Linked DNA regions of Homo sapiens. The protein of the gene in region 4 purifies or fractionates together with the protein of the main gene of each other region. This does not show direct contact. Each region holds a gene or a part of one and is shown on either strand. Other genes may lie near its edges. The genes, in order: SDAD1, RRP8, NVL, RBM34, CCDC137, PRKRA and ZNF777.

The links.
Region 1: the proteins of RBM34 (region 4) and SDAD1 purify together in Homo sapiens (affinity purification with mass spectrometry; 2 studies listed by BioGRID and IntAct, with this or other methods). This does not show direct contact.
Region 2: the proteins of RBM34 (region 4) and RRP8 purify together in Homo sapiens (co-immunoprecipitation; 3 studies listed by BioGRID and IntAct, with this or other methods). This does not show direct contact.
Region 3: the proteins of RBM34 (region 4) and NVL purify together in Homo sapiens (affinity purification with mass spectrometry; 2 studies listed by BioGRID and IntAct, with this or other methods). This does not show direct contact.
Region 5: the proteins of RBM34 (region 4) and CCDC137 purify together in Homo sapiens (co-immunoprecipitation; 3 studies listed by BioGRID and IntAct, with this or other methods). This does not show direct contact.
Region 6: the proteins of RBM34 (region 4) and PRKRA purify together in Homo sapiens (affinity purification with mass spectrometry; 3 studies listed by BioGRID and IntAct, with this or other methods). This does not show direct contact.
Region 7: the proteins of RBM34 (region 4) and ZNF777 purify together in Homo sapiens (affinity purification with mass spectrometry; 2 studies listed by BioGRID and IntAct, with this or other methods). This does not show direct contact.

The regions. Positions count from the first base shown.
Region 1 is NC_000004.12:75,952,946-75,956,445, forward strand, and holds part of SDAD1 (protein SDA1 homolog), read right to left. Parts: intron 3,192-3,500; coding exon 3,030-3,191; intron 1-3,029.
Region 2 is NC_000011.10:6,600,817-6,605,058, forward strand, and holds the start of RRP8 (ribosomal RNA-processing protein 8), read right to left. Parts: upstream 2,801-4,242; 5' UTR 2,687-2,800; coding exon 2,588-2,686; intron 1,400-2,587; coding exon 1,036-1,399; intron 787-1,035; coding exon 333-786; intron 240-332; coding exon 110-239; intron 1-109. Other genes in the region: scaffold protein ILK, read left to right, coding at 3,456-3,544.
Region 3 is NC_000001.11:224,232,673-224,236,172, forward strand, and holds part of NVL (nuclear valosin-containing protein-like), read right to left. Parts: intron 618-3,500; coding exon 529-617; intron 301-528; coding exon of another isoform or gene 269-300; exon of another isoform or gene 1-268. UniProt on the Homo sapiens protein: Participates in the assembly of the telomerase holoenzyme and effecting of telomerase activity via its interaction with TERT. Involved in both early and late stages of the pre-rRNA processing pathways.
Region 4 is NC_000001.11:235,154,751-235,158,250, forward strand, and holds part of RBM34 (RNA-binding protein 34), read right to left. Parts: exon of another isoform or gene 1,916-3,500; coding exon of another isoform or gene 1,845-1,915; intron 363-1,844; coding exon 131-362; intron 1-130.
Region 5 is NC_000017.11:81,672,068-81,674,399, reverse strand, and holds the end of CCDC137 (coiled-coil domain-containing protein 137), read right to left. Parts: intron 2,325-2,332; coding exon 2,245-2,324; intron 1,906-2,244; coding exon 1,696-1,905; 3' UTR 501-1,695; downstream 1-500.
Region 6 is NC_000002.12:178,434,176-178,437,675, forward strand, and holds part of PRKRA (interferon-inducible double-stranded RNA-dependent protein kinase activator A), read right to left. Parts: intron 2,145-3,500; coding exon 1,970-2,144; intron 1-1,969. UniProt on the Homo sapiens protein: Activates EIF2AK2/PKR in the absence of double-stranded RNA (dsRNA), leading to phosphorylation of EIF2S1/EFI2-alpha and inhibition of translation and induction of apoptosis.
Region 7 is NC_000007.14:149,451,063-149,454,562, forward strand, and holds part of ZNF777 (zinc finger protein 777), read right to left. Parts: intron 3,176-3,500; coding exon 3,049-3,175; intron 51-3,048; coding exon 1-50. UniProt on the Homo sapiens protein: May be involved in transcriptional repression. Inhibits cell proliferation through CDKN1A/p21 induction by down-regulation of NIBAN1/FAM129A at low cell density.

The DNA.
Region 1 (3,500 bases), on a different chromosome or scaffold from region 4:
ATTTTTAAGTGATATATGTGGTTCATATTATATTTCTATTGAACAGTACTGGTCTAAAGGGGAGAACAGAGAAAATCAGGAACTTAAAAGTTTATGTTTATAATGAAGAGATCTTGAAGAAAATACAGGGCAAAGGGACACACATAGAAATTCTGATTAATATCAGGTTCCAAATGACAAGAAAATTGGAGAACAAGAAAAAACATTCTTGAACCAACAAGTGCATATGTCCAATGAAATCTTAATTTACTCTCAAAAAGATTCTTCAATCTTTGAGAGTTATTTTATGACTCGAGGTGCTTGAAAGGAACAAAGCTGGGCTTTCCCTTCATGCCAGAAAAGGCATGCTAAAAAACAAAGGAAGTAGGGGTGGGGGGAGCCCTAACTAAAATATAACAAGCTCACAGAAACCTTATAATGAAACAAGGCCTACCAACAGGGTAATTAATACTTCCTCAACCCTGAAATGTTAGTTAAGGGCCAGTGAAGGACAGACTAATGGATTTAAGTCAATCCTATTATAATTTTAGGAGAATGTGGCAAAATTTAGAGTACTTAAAATCCTAAGTGGCACCTTTCCTTTCACCTCAGTTTCAACAGCTTCTATTAAAAATGCCGTCATTATTTAAATGATGTTGTTGAACACAGTTTAGAACTAGAAAGAGTCAACAGGGAGAGCTAAATGGTACCTTAATTCAGTGAATACTGACTTGGAACCCACAGACACAGCACTGCCCTAGAGGGCTGGCCGTTACATTCAGTGCTGGCAGGCTGATCCTTGGCTAGCTATTTAGGAACACTGATTCACAATATGAGACTGTTTAACCCAGAGCTGATATCCTGGCAATTCTTCAGAATGATATTTAGATACACTGCTACACCACAAGGAGAGAAAGATACAAAAGCATAAACTTGTTTTATCACAATGAATAACTGAAATAAATGAGCTGCCTAAGTAGCATGGGATTACCATTCAAAGGCCATGAATGGATAAAATGTAATCCCAAAGCCTGTAAACATCAGGGCTTTCAAAAGGGCACATACAGGAAGGATCATGCCAACACACTATTTATTTTGCATTGCTTTTCTGAAACTGTTTCTGAGATATCACCACACAAAATTATTGGGTTTTGAAAAGTACCCACGCCTGGGGCCAGGCGCGGTAGTAGCTCACGCCTGTAATCCCAGCACTTTGGGAGACCGAGGCAGGCAGATCACGAGGTCAGGAGATCAAGACCATCCTGGCTAACACGGTGAAACTCCGTCTCTACTAAAAATACAAAAAAATTAGCCAGGCGTGGTGGCGGGCACCTGTAGTCCCAGCTACTTGGGAGGTGGAGGCAGGAGAATGCCGTGAACCCGGGAGGCAGAGCTTGCAGTGAGCTGAGATTGCGCCACTGCACTCCAGCCTGGGTGACAGAGCGAGACTCTGTCTCAAAAAAAAAAAAAAGAGAAAAGTACCCACACCTATAATCCTAGCGCTATGGGAGGCTGAGGTGGACAGACTGCTTGAGTCCAGCAGTTTGAAACCAGACTGGGCAACATGGCAAAACCCCATCTCTACAAAAAATACAAAAATTAGCCGGGTGTGGTGGCAGACGCCTGTAGTCCCAGCTACTTGGAGGGCTGAGGTGGGAGGATCACTTGTAGGGAGACCCCCTGAATCTATTGCTACAGAATAAAAGATGAAATGCTCCTCATTATTGTAAATACAAAATTGCATGCAAGATTGTGTAAAAACAATGCCAGGTTGGGCTGCCAGAATGAGCCAACAGCACATGATGTGCTTCCCCCTGCAGAGAGCCTATGAACGGACGTGCAGTCAGGGAGGTTTCACATCACCAAGATTCCTATCCCAGAAAAGCAGATGTTCATAGCTCTGGGAATGGAATGTGACCCTTGTGGAGAGCCTATAAATGGATGCATGAGGGGCGCCTGTCCATATGGATAAGATAGGGTTATAAACGCCCTTATCTTGCCACGGCTCTTGTAGGTCTCTTCAAGAGTAAGGCATACTACCTTCTGAGAATTTGTGGTCTAACCAGTTGTCTAGCTTCACGTCCTGTTTCTATTGATTGTTTACAACCAGTTTTTGCTGCAACTGTTACTGCTGATTAATATCTTGCTAAACGTAGGTTATGGATAGACTGTGTTTCTGTTTTAAGGCTCTGTTAGAAATTGCTGATGCACACACTATATTGTAAATTCTTATCTCTGTATACTGTACTTCTGCATACCAATGTTATGTTAAAGAATTACTTCATCCCCATGTGACCATCTCACCTCATAATCAAACGACCCTAAATCCCTCACTAACCTACGCCCACTCTCACTAAACTTAATAATAAATGGTGGTATATCCAGTGCATTGGCAGCATCGCAGGACCAGAAGGCGGTGACCCCCCTGGACCCAACTTTCACTATCTTGTGTGTGTCTTTTATTTCTCCACCTGCCTTTCCACTTGGGAACAAAGAAAGAGCCCCGTTGCATTGCGGGCTGCTGGCCAGATCCCGCAATAATCACTGGAGCCTGGGAGGTCGAGGCTGCAGTGAGCCATGAGGCTGCAGTGAGTTGTGACTGCACCACTGCACTCCAGCCTGGATAGCAGAGTGAGACCCTGTCTCAGAAAACCAGGCATAAAATTGGCACTAAAAAGTTATTCAATTAATTTTGATATTATATTTCACAGATCAAATGTCAGAGAATTTTAGCATGGGAAGGAACCTCATGGATGATCTAGCTTGCATTCCTTTACTTATACTGGAGGAAAATGGATTCCCCTCTGGTCCCACAGCTGAGTCTCAATCAAGTCAGGTCTGGGATTTACATACCCTGAATCCTTCTCACCTCTCCATGCTCTCCAGCAATGCTCCCATTAATGGGAACTCTCCAACAATGCTCTCCAACAATGCTCCCAAGACACACACAATAATGCCCAGTCTTCAGAAGGCGCAAGTCCGTCTCAAATGTAAAGCTGTCTTGGAATTACAGTGCTGTTCTTGCCACCCAAGCTTCAAGTGGAACTCACCTGTTTTTCTCGGAAGGAACGCTTATTTTTTGACCGGACATTCTGGCTATACCGCATCATCATAAAGTTCTTCTGTTTTTTCTTCTCTTTATTTGTCGAACTGGAAAATGGATTTGTTTTGGTTTTCTTCCTCACAAATTCTTTTCGGTCTGTCTTTCCAGCCTACCAGAACAAAAAGTTTGATATTTCTTCTTCAACAACATACTTTAGGAGTCATCTAATCAACATTAATGTCTCCTCTGTGTCAGAAGCTCTACTAGGTGCCAAGGGCACAGAATGGACAGGACACAGTCTTTGCTCCTTGGGACCAAGAAATGGCCATACAGTATTATAACAGAGCAAGGGGAGCTCGGTGGAAGAAAAGTCATAATTTAGCCTGGTGAGGTCAGGGGAACTTCCTAGAAAGGGAGACAGGTAGACTGTTTTTTTTTTGTTTTTTTTTTTTTTGCAGGATGAAGGCATTCATGGTAA
Region 2 (4,242 bases), on a different chromosome or scaffold from region 4:
AGAAGAAAGCCAGCACTGAGATACCAGGATGGGAAAGGGGAAGGAAGGGTTAGAGATTAGCATACGGAGGTTGGCCCTAGAGCACAAGCCAGATAACATAGGGGTTTACCTGGGCCATGTCACACACAGTGACCCTAGGGTCCAGAGAAGCCAAGTCAAAGCAATGCACAGGGTTCCGGATACTTGAAGCCAAGCGGCAATCCCCACAGCCGAAGTCAGCCACCACTAGGGATGCAGGCCTGAGAGTGGAAGGCAAGGGTCACATATTGGTCTGATCTGAGCCTATGACTGACCCACCACATGGCTTCTCACAGTCCCTGACCCCCATTCACCGCTGGCGAAGATCCCTGGCGATGCGGTCCACTGGCTGCAGTGGCCACTTCTTCACTTGGCTCTGGAAGCCGCGGTGGTAGAGAAGAAAAGCCTCAGGGTCTTCCTGGAAGAGACGCTGTGCAGCACTGCTGGGCCCTGAGTACAACTGTTCATTGAGGTAGCGAAATCGGGCCCCATCCAGCCGCTGTGCCATGCGGGCTCGCAAAGCCCCTGCCCGAGCCTCATGGCTGTCTGTCCTGGGAACAGGAGACACCTCTGTCTTCTCTGTGGGGGCCTCAGCTGGGGCCTGGTCTGGCACCTGAGGTGGCTGAAACTTGTTCTTACATCTTCTCTTGTTCTTTTGCCGGTTCCGCCACTGCTTGCGGCTTAATGTATGAGGGGGTTTAGGGGAAGTGGACCCAGGGCTTTGCTTTGGTGGATCATTTGTAGTACTACCCTTCCAGGCTTTGGGACCTACAGGGAGGGAGATGGGAAGGTGCACATGAGGCAAGATCTCTTACATTCGGAGTCACGGCAAGTCATCCCAGCCATACCTCTGTCTTTGAGATCGTGACTGTGGCCTGCAGAGAAGTACTTCTTATTGCCTGAGTACACCATTAGCCCCAATCCTAATGGCAGTGGATAATCACTCTTGTATGTAGAACCAGCTGACCCCCCGACACACACACACCAACACACACACATATACACATCCAATGGTACCTGTTTGGTCAACATTGTCCAGGTGCTGGGCTGAATTTATAGGGGCATGTTTCTGGCATTTCCTCTTTCTTTTCTCATCTTCAGCAGAGTCACTGCCAACAAGAGCCTGTTTGTGGCATTTCTTCTTCCTTTCTACTTCTTCCTCAGAGTCACTGCAAGGTGGGCCCTGTTTTTGACATTTCTTCTTCCCTTTCTTCCCTACTTCAGCAGAGGCACTGGCAAATGATGCCTTTTTGGGGCATTTCTTCTTCCTTTCCTCCTCCTCCTCCTCAGAGTCACTTATACATAGGCTGGGGGGATGCTGGGAAAGAGATGCTGCCTCTAGGGCCCGTAATGTGGCCAAGAGCTGGCGGCGCTTGGAGCCCTGGAGGAAAACAGGGGATGACAGTGGGCCTAAAGAGAATGGATGAGGCCTGGAGAACAAGAAGGGAGAGATGTGGACCTGATTCAGACTGGCAGAAGCATCTGAATTCTTCCCAGTCAAGCCTGCCAGAACCCAGAAGAACTTTTATGTCACCACCCCAACTTCTGGGAAGCTGGAGAGCAGAGAAACCACCTATCCCACTTTCTTCAATGTGTAAATGAGCTAATGGAGGTTTCCCCAAAGGAAAATGCAAAGGCCACAAGCAACAAGACCAAGGCCAGAGACCAGGAATTCCAACCCTTCACCTTGAGCTTTTGCCTAGAGCTGATACATTTCTGTAAGAGGTAAGGAGGCTTCTGAACACAGGAGACACATGATCACACACGTATATTAAATATTTAACATGTCTCTAGCTGCAGTGTAGAAAACAAACTGAAGGGGAGAAATTGCAGACAGAGAGGCCAGCGGCTTGGACAATGGTAATGGGGCTAGGGGATGAAAAAGGAGGAAACAAAGCAGGCCGATTCCATGTTGGAGGCAGACTGAAGGGTAAGAAAAGCCTGAGGAAGCAGGGCCCTCACATCTGCAGAGGCTCAAAGGAGAAGATGTATTGTCGGGAAGGCTGATTCTGTGTTGCAGTCCTACCAGGTAATCCTAGGCCAGGCACTTACCCTGATTCTAAGTTTCCCACACCCTCCTTTGAACAATGATACTGACAACTCTTACTGTCTCCAATCCATCCTCCACACTGTAACCGACGACCCTTTCAAAATACAAATCTGAAGAAATAATTCCATTGCTTAAAACCTTTCATTGGCTTCTATTCTCAATATACGCAAAACTTCTACCTCTTGAACTTGAACAGCATATATGCCCCTTTCATTTACTATGTATTTCAACCACAAGGACCACTTGTGTTTGTGACTCTGACAGAACATGCTCTCTTGTCCCAGGGCCCTTGTACGTACTTTTTCCTGTCTGAAGAACCCTCTTCGCTTCACCAACTTCTACTCAACAACTCTCTCTGACCCAACGTCAGTTTCTTTTGGAAGTTCTCGGATCTTCAGATCAGGACTCGCCCTTAACGGTGCCACAGGTGTCCCTCCCCGCAATACACACAGCGCTGGGATCCACCAATGTCCGCTTCGCGGCCTGAAACAGCTCCCATTGCTCCCGCGAGTCACTCACCTTGTTTTGCGAGGAGGCCGCAGGCGGAGGTCGTGAGATTACGGGCCCAAGGCCCGCGGCTACTGGGGCCGCCTCGGCCCACTCAGGCTCTTCGAACATGAGGGTCGGGAGGGCAGGGTCGCCGAGTCCCCGCTCTTCTCCACGTGCACAGCGCTCCTCTGGAAGTCGGAGCGCTCAGACCTGCCAGAACCGACCCGGAAACCAAAGCGTGACAGCCAGGGGTTGCTAGAGCGGCCGGCGCGGCGCAGCGAACCATCGAGTTTAGCCAGGCGCGGCTAGAAGGGCAGGGAGGCGGTGGGAGGGGAGGGACGGAGGCCCGCGCTGCCCAAGAGCGCCACGGGCGGGGCGGGGCCGGCGGCGGGCTGCGGGCGCGGCCGGACGGGAGTTCCCCGGAGAAGGATCCTGCAGCCCGAGTCCCGGTGAGTGCGAGAGGACCCGCGCCCCCTGTCACCCCTCACTTCTCCTGAGTCCCAAGTAAGGAACGGAGCCAACCCTGGGGAGGACCCCCGGTCCCCTCTCCCAGAGTATACGGAGCCTGAACCTCCCCACTTCCCCCAACTCTGTTCGCGGATAGGGTCTAGTTGCCTGCTCTCGGACATCCGTTCAGCAGACACTACCTCTTCGTCACCCCCTGCCCACCCTGACCCGCCTTTACCTCGCGTCTAGAGGACACAGCCAGGGATCATCCCGCAGCCCCGAACTCCTTCACAGACCCCCACTAGCCGGGGACGCAGCTCAGGCCCCCTACCCCCAACACAAACACTTCTCTCCTGTAGAGGATAAAGCTTGGGGTTCATCCTCCTTCCCTGGATCACTCCACAGTCCTCAGGCTTCCCCAATCCAGGGGACTCGGCGCCGGGACGCTGCTATGGACGACATTTTCACTCAGTGCCGGGAGGGCAACGCAGTCGCCGTTCGCCTGTGGCTGGACAACACGGAGAACGACCTCAACCAGGGGTGAGCTGAAACGGTTGGTGGATGAGAGGAAGGCTAGAGATCTCCTGGCTACGTGGAGTGGAGTGCTCATGTCTGGTGGTGGCGGCTGCCTTTGCTAGCCAGTGTAATGAGTGCTAAGCATAGCCTGTGGGGGGCAGAGGGTTTTCACAGAGGACGCAGTTTGAGCTGAATCTTGACTGCAGAATAAGAGTTTCACAGGCAGAGGCTACAGAGAGCTTTCCAGCCTCAGTAGACTGCATGGCCAAAGGCTAGGGGGCAAGGCACAGAGCAGAGAGAACAGGAAATTGTCTGGAGTTCCATATGGCTGGAGGATAGATGATCTCTGTGGGTCGGAGCATTGGGTACAAGAGGAAAAGAACAGGACATAAGACTGTAGAGGTCTCCAAGGATCAGCCAGATCATGCAAGCATATTTAGGCTATAAGAAGGTCTTTATTTTAAAAGCAAGGTTTTAAAGCTGTATAGTGACATAATGAGATTGTCCATTTTTCAGTATCGTCTTGGATGCTTTGTGAAGAGCAGGTGGAAAGGAGGCAATTGCCTAGTTCATCGTAGAAGTAATGATGTCTTGGACTAGAATTAGGGTGAGTGAAAAAGAGAAGTGATCAAATTCCAGAAGTCTTTAGGACGAAGAATTGTGGAACTTGGTGTGGGGAGTGAGTAAGGGCAAAGATGAGGACCAGGGTTCTGGCTTGGGAA
Region 3 (3,500 bases), about 11 Mb from region 4:
CCCCATATGCACTCAAATAATAACATTAAAGACACTGTCAAATGTGAAGGATGGTGCAAAGCTTTTGAGATGGCCCCAAAGCATCACATAACACAATACACAGATTTTATATTTTGAAAGGAAAGTCTCAACATATGGAAAGTTATTCCAAATTTCACTTCTCTTGTGTATTTTCTAAGCTCTCCAATTTAGGCTGCATTTTAACAGGCAAGTAGATATCACCTTAGCAAAAGAATACGTTTTTCCAGAATTGATAAGCAGCCCAGACTCATGATGAAGACAGCGAATGGATCCATTTGCCTATAGGGACAGTACTCTTTATTAGAGAGGTACTAAATAACTTTGCTATTATTATAATTGTCAGCAACAGAGGTTACCTAATATTTCAGAACAGCTTCTAACAGTCTTATTAGAAAAACGTTAGCTTTAATATCATAGATAATAGACACTAGAAAATGGTCATTTTCCAGGGCAACAGTGGTTTTAAGTATCATAATTAGAATTGAGAGATTCTGGAGAGAATTGTACCTTTTTCATTTCCACTCTTCTGTCTTGCCATTTCCTGTCTCAGGGCACAGATAGAAGCTTCTCGTACCAAAGCAGAGAGATCTGCGCCCCTACAATAAAATAATAGTTATCTACTTATTCTTAGATACTGCAAAATCCCAGAAAAAAACCCGGAAAACAGTTTTCATATAAGTCATATATTAAATAATCAGGAGAAAAAGTGACCAATAAAGATGAGAAATAAATTGATTATCAATCAATAGAAAAGAGCTCTTAGCTTTTATATAAGATATTTCTAGGCCAGGTGCAGTGGCTCACGCCTATAATCCCAGCACTTTGGGAGGCCGAGGTGGGTGGATCACTTGAACAGGAGTTTGAGACTAGTCTCAGCAATATGGAGAAATGCCATATCTACAAAACTACAAAAAAATTAGCTGGGCATGGTGGCATGCACCTGTAGTCCCAGGCACTGGGGAGGCTTAGGTGGGAGGATCACTTGAGCCCGGGAGGTGGCGGTTGCAATGAGCCAAGATCGCACCACTGCACTCCAGCCTGGGTAACAGAGTGAGACTCTGTCCCAATTAAAAAACAAAAACAAAAAAAAACTAAACTCAAGAAGAAAGGAAATTATGGAGGAAACAATACAATGCATAAAGGGCTAAAGTGCTGACTAGCATATTCATGTATTACATAATGTCTAAAGTAAGCTTATTAAAAAGTCATTTATGGGCTGGGCGCAGTGGGTCATGCCTGTAATTCCAGCACTTTGGGAGGCTGAGATGGCAGAATTGCTTGAGCCTGGGGGGCAAAGGCTATAGTGAGCCTGGGTGACAGAGTGAGACCCTGTCTCAAGAAAACCCCCCAAAAAGTCACTTGTGGCTCCAAGTTCAGAAGGGAAAAATACAAACCCTGGAAAGTCTTTAATGCACCTGATTCAAGTTAAAACTGAATGAACACATCATAAGTTACTTAAAATATGACAAATACAAAACAGGCCTTCACTTATTTAATTAGTTCATGTAATAATATGCTGAGTCAGCACAGTTCTGAGTTCAATGAAAGACACTCATGTTGACTGGAGTTTCACTACATTACAGCTGTAACAGGGTTCTTAGAGATTATATGAGAAAGAGTTTGAGTTTGGGGATAAAAACATCACTTCTATGATTCACAAGTCTTGGAAAGAAAAGATGAAAATGAAAAATAAATTTTTTTAAAAAACCTCATCTCTGGACATTAAACTTATTATATAATGTTGATAATCCCCATACTATATAACTTTTTTTTTTTTGAGATGGAGTCTTGCTCTGTCACCGAGGCTGGAGTGCAGTGGTGTGATCTTGGCTCACCGCAACCTCTGCGTCCTGGGTATGAGTGATTCTCCTGCCTCAGACACATACTATATAAAAGTAAAGACCCACAGAGCTTAAATTTTTAACTGAATCTGGTGTTTTGTTGGCTAAATGTTAGGGTTATAACATTATTTAATAATCACATACCTGCTGGGGTATTCATTCCTTCCCATACTATGAAATCTAACATTGGTGGAAACACCATTAACTAACACAAGCAGATAGCTATAGACTGTAGTGGTGTAGTGTCTCTCAAACTGTAATTATAGTGGCATGAAAATCCAAAATGTACACCATTCAACTTTAGCCCTAACCCCTTCACAGACTGATAGCCTACTTGGTATATCCAAAAGATTTAGCCCAGGGCAAGTTCCGCCACCAAAATCACCTGTTACTCACCGAAAATCTTTTCAGATTTGAGCACTTAAAGCTGTATTATTATTATTTTTTTTGTAGAGATGGGGTCTTACTATGTTGCCCAAGCTGGTCTTGAACTCCTGGCCTCAAACAATCTGCCTGCCTTGGCCTCCCAAAGGGCTAGGATTACAGGTGTGAGCCACTGCTCCCACCCTTAAAGCAGTAAACTACTCAAGTAGTAGTCTCCTAAGCATAAGGCCATTTCTTTATTTTTAATTTTATTTATTTTTATTTTTTGAGATGGAGTGTCGCTCTGTTGCCCAGCCTGGAGTGCAGTGACACGATCTCAGCTCACTGCAACCTCCACCCGCTGGGTTCAAGCAATTTTCCTGTCTCAGCCTCCCTAGTAGCTGCGATTACAGGTGTGCACTACCATGCCCGGCTAATTTTTGTAGTTTTAGTAGAGACAAGGTTTCACCATGTTGGCCAGGTTGGTCTCAAATTTCTGACCTCAAGTGATCTGCCCACCTCAGCCTCCAAAGTGCTGGGATTACAGGCGTGAGCCACTGTGCCTGGCCACATCATTTAAATAAAGACTCGTATGGATTTGATTCCTAATTAGGGGGTGAGGCACATCCTATTTAAGGGGAGGTAGAGGCATTTACATCTGCCCCTCACCACCCCTGCCTGAGACTCTGATCAGTTTCTCTTCACTGAGAATCACTGCTACATTGGAAGGACATAATAGAGAAAAAAAAAGGGCCGGGTGTGGTGGCTCACTGTAATCCCAGCACTTTGGGATGCTGAGGCATGAGGGACTACTTAAGCTCAGGAGTTCATGACAAGACTGGGCAATATGGCGAGACCCTAAAACTACAAAAATTTTTTAAAAAAATTAGCTGGGGATGGTAGCATGCACCTGTAGTCCCAGCTATCCAGGAGGCTGAGGTCAGAGGATTGCTTGAGCCCAGGAAGTCAAGGCTACAGTGAGCCATGATCATGCCACTGTACTCCAGCCTGGGTGAAAGAGGGAAACCCTGTATGGAAAAAAAAAAAAGAAAAAAAAGAAAACAAAAAGCCGGAGGGGGCATTGTCTCTGTTAGTTAAACTTGAGTTTCATTTCCTCCCTCTGTGTCCCCAAATTGGGAAAGTTAACAAACAAATTTACTTCAAAACATATGAAGAAAAACTAATAACTGTAACAACACAAACATAGGAAGGATGAAGGCAGAAATGTCAGATTTCCTGATGTTACTACAGGCTATGTGGAGGTGAAAATGCATC
Region 4 (3,500 bases):
ATTCATATTAGGATGATTTATGTAATAATTTACAATGAAGTTATATCCATGACTTACTATTGAATGCTTATTCAACACAGGAAGAACAAAGTTATTAACTTCTCTGAACTTTTACCATATACAAACTCACCTTCTTATTACATGTAACAGGCAAATTCCCAACAAACACAGTTCTCTCATTCTTTAATCTCTCTTCTTCTTGGTTGATTTGAATTTTCTTTCTTTGACTGACAACTGTGTCTTCTGTGTCATCAAGTATTTTTCTATCTGCTACTTTAACACCAGGTTGAGAATTTTTCCTTTTCTGCCCTTGTTTCTGGTGAATTTCTTCTTCTAAATCAGCACTCGCTAGAGCGCTTTCCCTTTTTAAGGCAAAAAATAAAATAAGCAGTAAGAGTCATGCCAGTTAGGTCTAGTATTTGACAAAGCACAGCCCTACCCTCCCGACTAGAAATATTTCCCAATGTCTTCTGAATTTTCCTAGATTTACTACTCACAAATATATCAAAATTTTTAGAGCAGCGCTATCTAGAAACTGACTAGTATCTTTAGAAAAAAAATGATTTAACTCAAGATTTAGAAAAAGTTAAGCTCTTTTTTTTTTTCTTTGAGACAGGGTCTTGCTCTGTCACCCAGGCTGGAGTGTAGCAGCGTAATCACAGCTCACTGCAGCCTCAACCTCCCAGGCTCAGGCAATCCTCCCACCTCAGCCTCCCAAGTAACTGGGACCACAGGCGCATGCCCCCACACGTGGCTTTTTTTTTTTTTTTTTGAGACGGAGTTTTGCTCTGTCACCCAGGCTGGAGTGCAATAGTGCAATTTCGGCTCACTGCAACTTCTGCCTCTCGGGTTCAAGCGATTTTCCTGCCACAGCCTCCCAAGTAGCTGGGATTACAGGTGGCTGCCATCATGCCAGGCTAATTTTTGTATTTTTAGTAAAGACGGGGTTTCACCATGTTGGCCAGGCTAGTCTTGAACTCCTGACCTCAAGTTATCTGCCCACCTTGGCCTCCCAAAGTGCTGGGACTAAAGGTGTGAGCCACCATGTCCAGTCTTTTATACATACATATACATATATATATATATATATATATATATATATATATATATATATATACATATATACTTTTTTTTTTTGAGACAGAGTCTAGCTCTGTCTCCCAGACTGGAGTATAGTGGCGCAATCTCGGCTCACTGCAACCTCCGCCTCTCTGGTTCACAACGATTCTTTTGCCTCAGCCTCCCAAGTAGCTGGGATTACAGGCACCTGCCACCAAGCCCAGCTAATTTTTTTTTTTTAGCAGAGACGAGGTTTCACTGTGTTGGCCAGGCTGGTCTCGAACTCCTGACCTCTTGCTCCGCCCGCCTCAGCCTCCCAAAGTGTTGTGATTACAGGCATGAGCCACCGCGCCCAGTCTCCTTTTATATTTTTTTGTAGAGACAGGGTTTTGCTATGTTGCCCAGGCTGGTCTTGAACTCCTAAGCTCAAGCCATTCGCCCACCTCAGCCTCCCAAAGTGCTAGGGTTACAGGCGTGAACCACTGCACCTGGCAAGAATAAGTGAAGCTCAATTTTTGAACACGTTAAATCTGCCATGCAACAGCAGCAGCAAGTTCATCTATACAAAAGCTGATTCACTTAAAGCTCTTGGAGATTTAGTTTACACTCTATCAATGCCTGATTTCATTTTCTACTCTAGACCTTTAGGGGCACTATCACACTCCCTGAGAGTCTAAAAAGGTTAATATGGCAGCAGAGTACTTACTCTGTACAAGCAATATGGCTGATAGGAAAAACCAGATTCCCTACTTCTAATACTTCTGTAATATTTAAAGGACTCTTACCAAAAGTAAATTGTGAAACGGTAAATACAATATAAAGTATTGCTGGATATGGATAAGCAAGGTCTGAGCATCAATCTGAAAGGAGAACTAAAGGATATTAAGGAGTGAGGGAAGAGAAGAGCTAATAAGAATCATAAAAATGACTCACTCATCAGCAAATACTTACCGGGTTCCTACTCAGTTCTAGGCTCTGAGGATACAAAGATAAAGAAACAATCAAAGGCCTCCAACAGTGCAGTGAAGAGACAGACCAAGTTCACAATAAAATGGTAACAGCTATAATACATGGTATGCAAACATAAACGAGAAAGGCTTCTCAGAGGAGGAAATCAGTGTCTGGCACATAGTCCAATAAAAGCTGACTGCTATTACTCCTCCCCTGAGGACAGGGTCCATGTCTAGTGTTTTGCTCACTACAGTATATAAAGTACCTAGCAGGTGTGAAAGGAAACGAGACAGTACAGTAAGGTGGGAACCAGGTCAGGAGAGACCTTCAGTGTTACACGAAAGTGCTTAGATTTTATCCTACTGAAGATGAGGAGACACTGAAGACTTTGAGAGCATCTAAAAAAGATCATCTGGGCAGAAGAGTGGAAGATAATTAGAAAGAGGATAAGGTTGGAGAAGGGAGACCAGTAAGGAGATGGTTACAACAGTGTGTATCTGAGAAGACTGACCAGACTGACCAGAGCAGGGAAGGAGGTGAAGACGAAAAGGCAGATTAAAGAGATAATTAAAAAACAGCATCATCAGGACTCGGCAACTGATTAGCTAAGCAAGGAGAGGAAAGAAGACAGGATGACTCTCGGGCCACTAACTTAGGCAACTAGAAGGCTAGTGGTAGCGCTCATGCCAAGGAACAGGACTGATGAGAATGATGAGCTCCCAGTGGAGCATTCTTACCTGGTGGTACATATGGAATAAAGAGGTGCAAATGCCAGGAGGCAAACAAACATACATGTCTGGAGATCAGGAGAGAGATCACGGTGGGCACAAGAGATACTGCCCCCAACAAAGGGTGACAAAGGGTCACAAGAACATGACCAAGAATGAGACCCCTGAGGGAAATGCACATTTAAAGAGTAGTCAGAGGAAAAGATACCACAGTAACACTAAGAAAGAATTGGCAAGAGGACAATCAGAAGAGATTTCTCTCAGAGAATCCGGTAGCTTCAACAAGAAAAGCAGCCACGTGAAAGGTAACAGAGGACTCATAAGACAAAAGCTGCACTGCCCATTACATATGAGAGGTCAGGGTGGCCTCAGTGGGCACTGCTTCAGTGGCACAGTCAGGACGGAGAATAAAACCCACCACCACCAGAATCCAAGTGCGTGGAAGGGTGAACAGATCAAGAGAAGGGAGAGAGTACAAGAACAGACTACTTTTCTTAAAAGCTAGACTGAAGGGAAGGACTGTGGGAATGGTAGCAAACAGAGACATGCAATTACATGGGTTTTTTTTTTTGGCGGTTAGGGGGAATGTCCTTTTTAAAGATTAGAATCGTGAGCACGTCTATATTAGCAGAAAGAGGGATAAGGGCCAGGCGCGGTGGCTCACGCCTGTAATCCCAGCACTTTGGGAGGCCAAGGCGGGTGGATCACCTGAGGTCAGGAGTTCAAGGCCAGCCTGGCCAACATGGTGAAACCCCATCTCTA
Region 5 (2,332 bases), on a different chromosome or scaffold from region 4:
AAAAATTATTTGGGTGTGTTGGTGAGCACCTGTTGTCCCAAGTACTTGGGAGGCTGAGGTGGGAGGATTGCCTGAGCCCAACAACTTGCTGCAGTGTGCTTATGCCACTGCACCCCAGCCTGGGCAACAAAGAGGCCCTAAAAACCACCAGGGGTTTCCCTTCCAGCAGCTAAAACCTGAGAATCATGGATGCAGTGGAGAGCATGAGCGCTTTCCCAGCCCTGTGGGATCCCTTTGCTTAGCCATACACGGGCCGATCTGACACCCAAAACCAAAGGCATTGAGCGAGTGGGAGTGCCACCCGCTGCCGTCCCAGCCCTTTCCCAGGGAAAGGCCACCCCCTTCCAGCTGCTGCTTGTGATCTGGGGCTGAGTTCTGGCTGCTGCAAAAACAACATCCCAACGCGAGGGCTGGGGCCGCCAGGTCCATCACAAGGTGGGAAACATGCCCATAAGAGGAAAACAGCCCTGACTTTAAATATATATTCTCCAATTTAAAACTTTTAACTAAAAAGTAAACTTTAATGTCGAAAGTGCAAACTTGGGGAAGGCAGAAAACATCACACACAAGGCTGTCACTTCACACTTGGAAGGTTGCACAGCGGCCGGGCAGAGGCGCTCCTCACTTGCCAGACGGGGTGGCGGCCAGGCAGAGGTGCTCCTCACTTTCCACACGGTGTGGGGGCCGGGCAGAGGTGCTTCTCAGTTCCCAGATGGTGCTGGGCTGTCGGACTCCATTGCTGGATGTGTGACTTGGGTTTAAGCTTCTCCCTTCTGCTCTCATCTGGAAATGCTGACAGCCTGGGCATTTCCTCCTTTGGCACTGGAGACTGAAGCCTGGCAAGGCCCTGCCCTCAGCAGGAACTCCCCCTGGGCCCCACTCTGTGACCTTGAGCCCAAGACAGGATTTTTCCTTTACCTTCTTCCAGCCACTTTGGGCCTCCCGGCTCTCTCAGAGCCCTGTTAGGTAGGTGACAACTCTGTTCCCACTGTTTTTTTTTTCTTCGTGTATTTTTAGTAGAGATGCAGTTTCACCATGTTGGCCAGGCTGGTTCGAACTCCTGACCTCAGGTGATCCACTCGCCTCAGCTGCCCAAAGTGCTGGCATTACAGGTGTGAGCCACCGCGCCCGGCCCCCGGTTCCCACCTTCTTAAGTGTATGTGTTGTCATCATGTTTCACCCCAACCAAACCTTGGGTGGGCAGCCTCTGTAGGGGACCACTCACAGCTGGCCTGTAGTCACGGTCCCCTGCAGAGCCCTGTCCCGATGCGTCGTCCCTGCCCGTGGCCTGCTCTGCCTGATGTGCACTGTACGCTCGGCTCTGCTGACTCCCGGGGGCCTCCGTCACACACTGAGCCAGCCTCATCAGCTGTCTCGGTATTTGGTGTTCAGGGACAGGGATCCAGCCCTTCCTAAGGTCCACCTGGGCTGAGACTCAGAATGGACGTTCAAAACAAAGAGATGGAGCTGTGAGTGACACCGGGCCCCACGGGCCGTCTGTCAACCAGGCCTTGGCCCTAGTCCATCGGGCACTCACCCCCTGCAAGATGTGGACCCACTAGTGCCCAACGTGTGAACAAGTAGCTGGAGGCCTCACCCCACACTGCTGGCATGGCCTGCCTCTCTCCTACCCAGGTGTAGCAGCTCCTGGTGCCAGTTGCCCCAGAGCGTGGCCAGGCCCCGGGTGTCTCTCCATCACAGCTGCGGCTCTGGCTTCTTCCGGGAAGTGAGGTGGGGTCGCTCCCCGTGCAGCTGCTGCTGCCGCTGCTTCAACGCTCTGTAGGCCTGCACGGCCCGCTCTCTCTCCTCCTCCACAATCCGCTGGCGGGCCAGGGAGGCGGTCAGAGGCTGGGACACACCACCGGGGCTCAGAAGCATCCGCAGCATCTGCGATCTCCTGCCAGGCTGAGGGAGAGAGGGGAGGGTGAGGCACAGGCTGGGAAAGGAGGGGATGCAACAGAAAGCCTCACAGCTTCAACAGCTCTCCCGCCAGCGAGAACACTGCACTCTCAGGCCACACACCAGACAGCGCACACGTTGGCTGAGGGTTTTTTTTTTTCTTGACACAGGATCTCGCTATGTTGTCCAGGCTGGTATCAACTCCTGGGCTCAAGCAATCCGCCTGCCTTGGCCTCCCAATGTGCTGGGATTACAGGTGTGACCCACCGTGTCCAGCCTGTCCAAGGCTTCTGTTCCCTGGCAGCACTGGGGGACAAACTCAAGTTGTCCCCGTGCCCCACTTACCTGGTCCTTGCTTACGCTCCTCTGGGGCCTGGCAGTCAGCTCTGGGGGCTGCAGGACAACCTCACCAAACTTCACCGTGTCTGGAGGA
Region 6 (3,500 bases), on a different chromosome or scaffold from region 4:
TCTCGGTTCACTGCAACCTCTGCCTCCCGGGTTCAAGTGATTCTCCCACCTGAGCCTCCCGAGTAGCTGGGATTACAGGTGCACGCCACCTTGTCTGGCTAATTTTTGTATTTTTAGTAGAGACAGGGTTTCACCGTGTTGGTCAGGCTGGTCTCAAACGCCTGACCTCAGGTGATCTGCCCGACTTGGCCTCCCAAAGTGCTGGGATTACAGGTGTGAGCCACCGCACCTGGCCTCCAGCCTCTTTTCTTTTTTTTTTTTGAGACAAGTCTAACTCTGTCACCCAGGCTGGAGAGCAGCGGCATGATCATGGCTCACTGCTGCCTCAACCTCAGAGGCTCAAGTCATTGTCCCCACCTCAGCCTCCCTAGTAGACTGGACTACAGGCATGTGCCACCACACCCAGCTAATTTTTCATCAGCCACCTTTTCTAACCATCTGTCTGCACTGACTTCCCAGGTTCTGCATCATTATTGGTTTACTGAGACAATGCACTTCACCCGTCCTTCAATCCCAAAGTAGCACAGAATATCAGGAGTTCTTTGAGCCCCTAAGTGCCCTACTTTCCCAGGGTCAGGGGACCCTGACAAGCAAGGTCCCCACATCTTTCTGTGGTTGGATAGGGATATAAAATTTCTCACACATGTTAAATCAAGATACTTTGGCCAGGCACGGTGGCTCACACCTGTAATCCCAGCACTTTGGGAGGCTGAGGTGTACAGATCACTTGAGGTCAGGAGTTTGAGACAAGCCTGGTCAACATGGTGAAACTCCCATCTCTACTAAAAAAAAAAAAACTTTGGGAGGCCGAGGTGGGTGGATCATGAGGTCAGGAGTTTGAGACCAGCCTGGCCAACATGGTGAAACCCCGTCTCTACTAAAAATGCAAAAATTAGGTGGGTGTGGTGGCACACAGCAGTAGTCCCAGCTACTCAGGAGGCTGAGGCAGGAGAATTGCTTGAACCTGGGAGGCAGAGGTTACAGTGAGCTGAGATCATGCCACCGCACTCCAACCAGGGCAACAGATCAAGACTCCATCTTGGGGAAAAAAAAAAAAATTAGCCAGGCTTGGTGGTGGATGCCTGTATTCCCAGCTTCTTGGGAGACTGAAGCAGGAGGATCGCTTGAACCCAGGAGGCAGAGGTTGCAGTGAGTTGAGATTGTGCCACTGTACTCCAGCCTGGGCAACAGAAACAATACTCCGTCTCAAAAAAAAAAAAAAAAAAAAAAAATCAAGACACCAAACACACACAACTAATTAGCTCTATAAATTGAATTAAAAGAAAATCCATACTGACTTGCTTTCCCATCTGTCCATATTTGTCTATCCAAATGATTAAGGGCTAGAGAAAATACAGATGATGATGGCTGAGATGGGATAAAACTATAAATTGACTTGGTTCCATTTACCTCCCAGAATCAGCATACAGTGACAAAGTAGAGAGAAAAGGTCTGGGCACCACAAACTTGTACTTGTGCTAGAAATGTAGGTGCCTTTTCATTTGCCCAGCAGGGCTAGTTTAACAGCCAGGGTATCTTCTGGGACTCTTCCCCAAATCTTGCTCTACCGCTGACTAGCTATGTGATCTTGGGCAAGTTTCTCAACCTTTCTGTGCCTTTCTTCCTTTACTTATAAATAAGGATAACAGAATTTGCTTCATAGAGTTAGTCTGAGGATTCAGTAAGTAGATACGTGTAATCTTAGAACAGTGTCTGGCACACAGTAAAACTCTATCTTTGCTATTGTTGTTTTTGTTATAACTGTATAGATGTTAGCTATTATTACTATCCACAAGAATGGGACATATCAATTATATATATTACTGGCCTAGTAATTATATATACTTAGAATCCCTGATCAATAAAATAAATTGTAATAGAAATTTTTATTCCTCAAACACATTTTTGTTCCTCAAACACATTTTTAAATAAACATGTCTTGGGAAAGCCAAAGAAAAAAAAATCATACCTATATCCAAATATGTTATATTAAAACCTTGTTCCTTGGCAATTTCACTAAGCAGCTGGATGTAATCTGTATTTGGAATACTAAGGAGGCTTCTTTTCAGTAAGTTGATCTTTTCACCAGGAGAATTCCTCAAGGAATGCCAAGTACATCCTAAAGAATGTCCTACTACATTTGTCTGAAAAACAGAGATGAAGATTTAGACTCTTGACTAGGACTGGGTTCCAACACCCGTACCAGTATCATTAAAAGTACTTATTAAGCACTCACATTTAATATGTTATAAAGCATGTTTAAATGGATAACATTTGGTTAATTTTCCAATTTAAACAAGACAACATTAAAAAGTACACATTTAACAATACTATATGTTTTTAAGAAGCACTTGCAATAATATACTGAAAGCATTTTGTATTTTGTATAGTACAAATGTTTCTCAGTCAAGTTTTCTGATGGTCACATTAAGAGGTACAAGATATCTGGAAGCACCATAAGTAAATCCACAAATAATTAAATCTGCCTAATGGAGCAATTTGCAGATTAAAATATAGAACAATTTTCATATCTTTGGTTTTTTTTGTATTAAATACCAATCACTATAACTGACAGCTATCAAACAGGAAAAAAAACAGAAAAAAAAACTAAAAAAAACATGAAATGTGCGCGTTGGGTTTGAGGAACAAGTCATTCAAATAAATGACAGGATGTCAAAAAGTTCTTATCAGACTTCTATCCCAGAACCCAACTGAGTATTTTTTTCCTTTTTCTTTCTGCTTTTCCTCTTTCCTTTATCCTCCCCTATATCCTTCCCTTTTCATCTCTGTCCTTAGAATGCCTTATATTTCCATATTAGTTTATGGTTCTCAAATTGCTTTCATATGCCATTAATAAAAACAACTACTTTCTGAAGTAAGTAGGGTTACTACTCTTAATATTGTTTTATTAATGAGCACGACAGAGGGGAGGCAATTTCCAAAAGATTTTAGAGATGGCATGATATGGAATTAAGTAATTTATTAGATTTACCAAATAAAAATTTACATTATAGAAACTTTAAAATACTGTTTTTAAATAAAGAACACTATTTACATGGTTAAAAATATACATGCACTAAGAACAAATATATAATGAAGAGTACAGTCTCTTTTCCTTACCACCCATTCCCTGAAGACCTCTGTTCTATTTCTTAGACATACTGTTAAACATTTTTCAGTATCTTCCCATAAATGTTCTATGCATATGCAAGCACACACAATCTTTTAAAGCAAATGATAACTTACTCCTCTACATCTTGTTCATTTTTCTTTTATCAGTGCACATATATGCACTGTATTTACCTTACGGATCTCCAACTGTGAGCTTTAGGTTGTTTCTAGTTTCTTGCTTTTACTAGCAATAAACACTCTTTTGCACTTGAATGAGTTTCTCTGTAGAATTATTTCTAGAAGTGGAACTGCTAAGTCAAAGAACATGTACACTTTTAATTTTGATAAATACTTCCAAACTGATTTCTGAACCAATTTATACTCCTACC
Region 7 (3,500 bases), on a different chromosome or scaffold from region 4:
CTCCCCGCGCTCCATCTGTGACATGAGGTCTGGTTTGGAAATTGCATAGTCTAGGCAGAAGAAAGGGAAAAAAATATGCTCTGGGATGAGGTTGCACTGGATGTTGTTAAGGTATCATCTGTGGGCACGTGATTCCAGGAGCAGCTCCTCGACTGGAGACCACAATGGAAAACCGCCAAGTCTCCCCTTCTTTTCCCAAGAGCCCACTGTGGGTGTGGGGGTGTGGGTGTGTGTGTGTGGCGGGGGGTAGAGGGATCGTGTTGCTCAGAGGTAGTCAAAACCTGCCCAGGTTTTCATGATAAAGGCAGAAGATATTTGAAATTTTGTAAGGTAAAAAACTAATCCTGGCCGGGTGCAGTGGCTCACACCTGTAATCCCAGCACATTGGGAGGCTGAGGCAGACGCATCACCTGAGGTCAGGAGTTCGGGACCAGCCTGGTCAACATGGTGAAACCCCATCTCTACTAAAAATGCAAAAAATTAGCCAGGCGTGGTGGCGGATGCCTGTAATCCCAGCTACTCGGGAGGCTGAGGCAGGAGAATCACTTGAACCTGGGAGGCAGAGGTTGCAGTGAGCCAAGATCACACACTGCACTCCAGCCTGGGCAACAAGAGTGAAACTCCGTCTCAAAAAAAGAAAAAAACAAAAAACTAATCCTGATAAAAATCTAAAAGCCATAAAATATCGATAGATTTTCTTACATAAAATAAGTCTGCAGTTCTTTGGAAATAAAGTTAAAAGATGAAGAAACTTGGAGGAAATATTATACATATATATACATGTTTGACATATGGCAAAGGGTTAATATCCATAGTTATACATAAAGAACTTCTATAACTAGTAAAATTGCAAAGCTATAAATAGGTAATTCATAGAAGAAATATGAATGGCCAATAAATATATAAAAAGATGCACAAGTTCACTGGGCACAGTGGCTCACGCCTGTAATCCCAGCACTTTGGGAGGCCGAGGCGGGCGGATCACAAGGTCAGGAGATCGAGACCATCCTGGCTAACATGGTGAAACCCCGTCTCTACTAAAAATACAAAAAATTAGCTGGGCACGGTGGTGGGCACCTGTAGTCCCAGCTACTCGGGAGGCTGAGGCAGGAGAATAGTGTGAACCCGGGAGGCGGAGCGTGCAGTGAGCCGAGATCGCGCCACTGCACTCTAGCCTGGGCAACAGAGCGAGACTCCGTCTCAAAAACAAACAAACAAACAAACAAACAAAAAAAGATGCACAAGTTCACTAATCATCAAAGAATACATATTTAAATAAATGAAGTAGGCTGGGCGTGTGGCTCACGCCTGTAATCCCAGCACTTTGGGAGGCCGAGGTGGCTGGATCACAAGGTCAGGAAATCAAGACCATCCTGGCTGACACGGTAAAACCCTGTCTCTACTAAAAATACAAAAAAAAATTAGCCAGGAGCAGTGGAAGGTGCCTGTAGTCCCAGCTACTCGGGAGGCTGAGGTAGGAGAATGGCATGAACCTGGGAGGCGGAGCTTGCAGTGAGCCCAGATCGTGCCACTGCACTCCAGCCTGGGCAACAGAGCGAGACTCTGTCTCAAAAAAAAAAAAAAAAAGTAAATAAATAAATAAATAAGGTATCATTTTTCACCTATAAAAAAGGCTAATATTTAAAATAGAAGAACATCAGCTCAGGCCAGGGTATGAAGTGGCATTTTCACACACCCTTGCAGAAATATCAACTGGCTCAGCCTTCTGGAGGGCACCAGGCAGTAGCCATAAAACTATAAATGTGCATCCTGTTTACTTGGCAATCCCACTTCTTAGTATCTGTCCTACTGTAACACACAGAAGTGCACAAATACACAGAAATGTTTATCATAACACTTTGTAACAGTCAACCTACTCTTCAGCAACAGCAGACAGGTCAAAAGCCCTAATGGTTCACGTGGAACACTGCACTGTCTTTCCAAGGAGTCCTACGTGTGCTGACATGGAACACTCTCTATCCCCCTACATTAGGTAAAATAAGTAAACGGGCCCCTCTGTGCAAACCCCAAACTGCATGTGCCTCAGTGCATGTATCATGCTTATATCTGCACATGCAAAAAAAGATGAGAGAGAACACAGGCCAAAGTGTTCATGGTGGTTACCTCTGGGGAGTGGTACTGGTGAATGGGTGGTGGTTGCTCTTAATTATATAAATCATTTAAATTGTTGAATTTTCACAATTAAAAAACACAATTAAAAAAAGAAAAAAGAATTTTAAAAGGAAGGGAATGTATCCTATGGAAAGGTATGTATAAAATTATCAATTCTAGCTGGAATCAAAGTTTCTATGTGACAACACATTTAAATGTTTAAGATAACGTTTTTTTGTATATACCCAAAAAGTTCTCCATATCAGAGAAACAGATATATATACACACACACATATATATATGTAAGTAAAGTATATTTTTCCAGGTTTTCATCGTTAAATATTCTTAATTAAAATCACAAGAATCTACAGACTTCGGGGTAAGGCAGATCTCCATGAAATAAGCATTTAACCTCCCTGATCACAGCCTCAGTGTTCAGGCACCTGAATCATCGAACAGGAGTGTGAACACCTGTCTTAGCCTCCGCAACATCTTGGCTGTGCAGGTCCAAGGAGATGATACTTGTACAGCACCTCAAATGTGGCTGGTACACAGGAGACACTCAGCACACTTTCCTTTCATTCTTTTTTCCTTCCTTAATAATAGTTTGCTGGACAAACTAATTTATTTAAAAAGGGGTCCCCATGGGGAAAAATATGATGACGGAGAGACCACTGATGTCTAGGTCTTTCTCCTCCTCCTTGCCCCAGCAGCTTCTCTGAGAGTGGGGTCTCAATTTACAAGCCATTCTGGCCTGGGCCGCACTGATGTGTGTGGGTATATGAGGGCGTTTGCTTTAATTTGTTGTGATCTCTACAACTCTGTTCTCCTTGCTTGCAACTATTGGCTCTGCTGGGGTTCAGAACTCCCTAAGTTTATGAATGCACTTTGAGCTGGCGTCCAGGCAGCCCCCAGCGAGCGAAGGCTTCTCCTTACCCATGGAAACCAGGGACTCGTAGTTGCCCCTCATCACGTTCTTGTAGAGCTCCTTCTGCCACTCAGACAGGTTTCCCCACTCCTGCTCCGAGAAGTGCACAGCAACATCATCAAATGTGACAGGGACCTGAAACCACACAATAACTCGGCTCAGACCCGCTGGAAGGCAGTGACAGGCCCACGGCTGGCCAATCCCAAGGCCCAAACTCCTGGCTCTGGGCCTTCACCTAGGACTTTTCTAGAAGTCTGGCCACTGTCCTGGCCCCAAAGAGTGAGGGGCCTGTCTTGTCGGATCCTTTTCCTCCCCTTCAGGATATAATTCTTGCAGCTCTAAAGCATGGTCTGTGGACCAGCAGCAATGGTGCTACCAGGTAACTTGCTCAGACCCCACCTTAGACCTACTAAATAGCTTCTGCATTCAGTAAGATCCCGGGGAGATCCATGTGCACAGT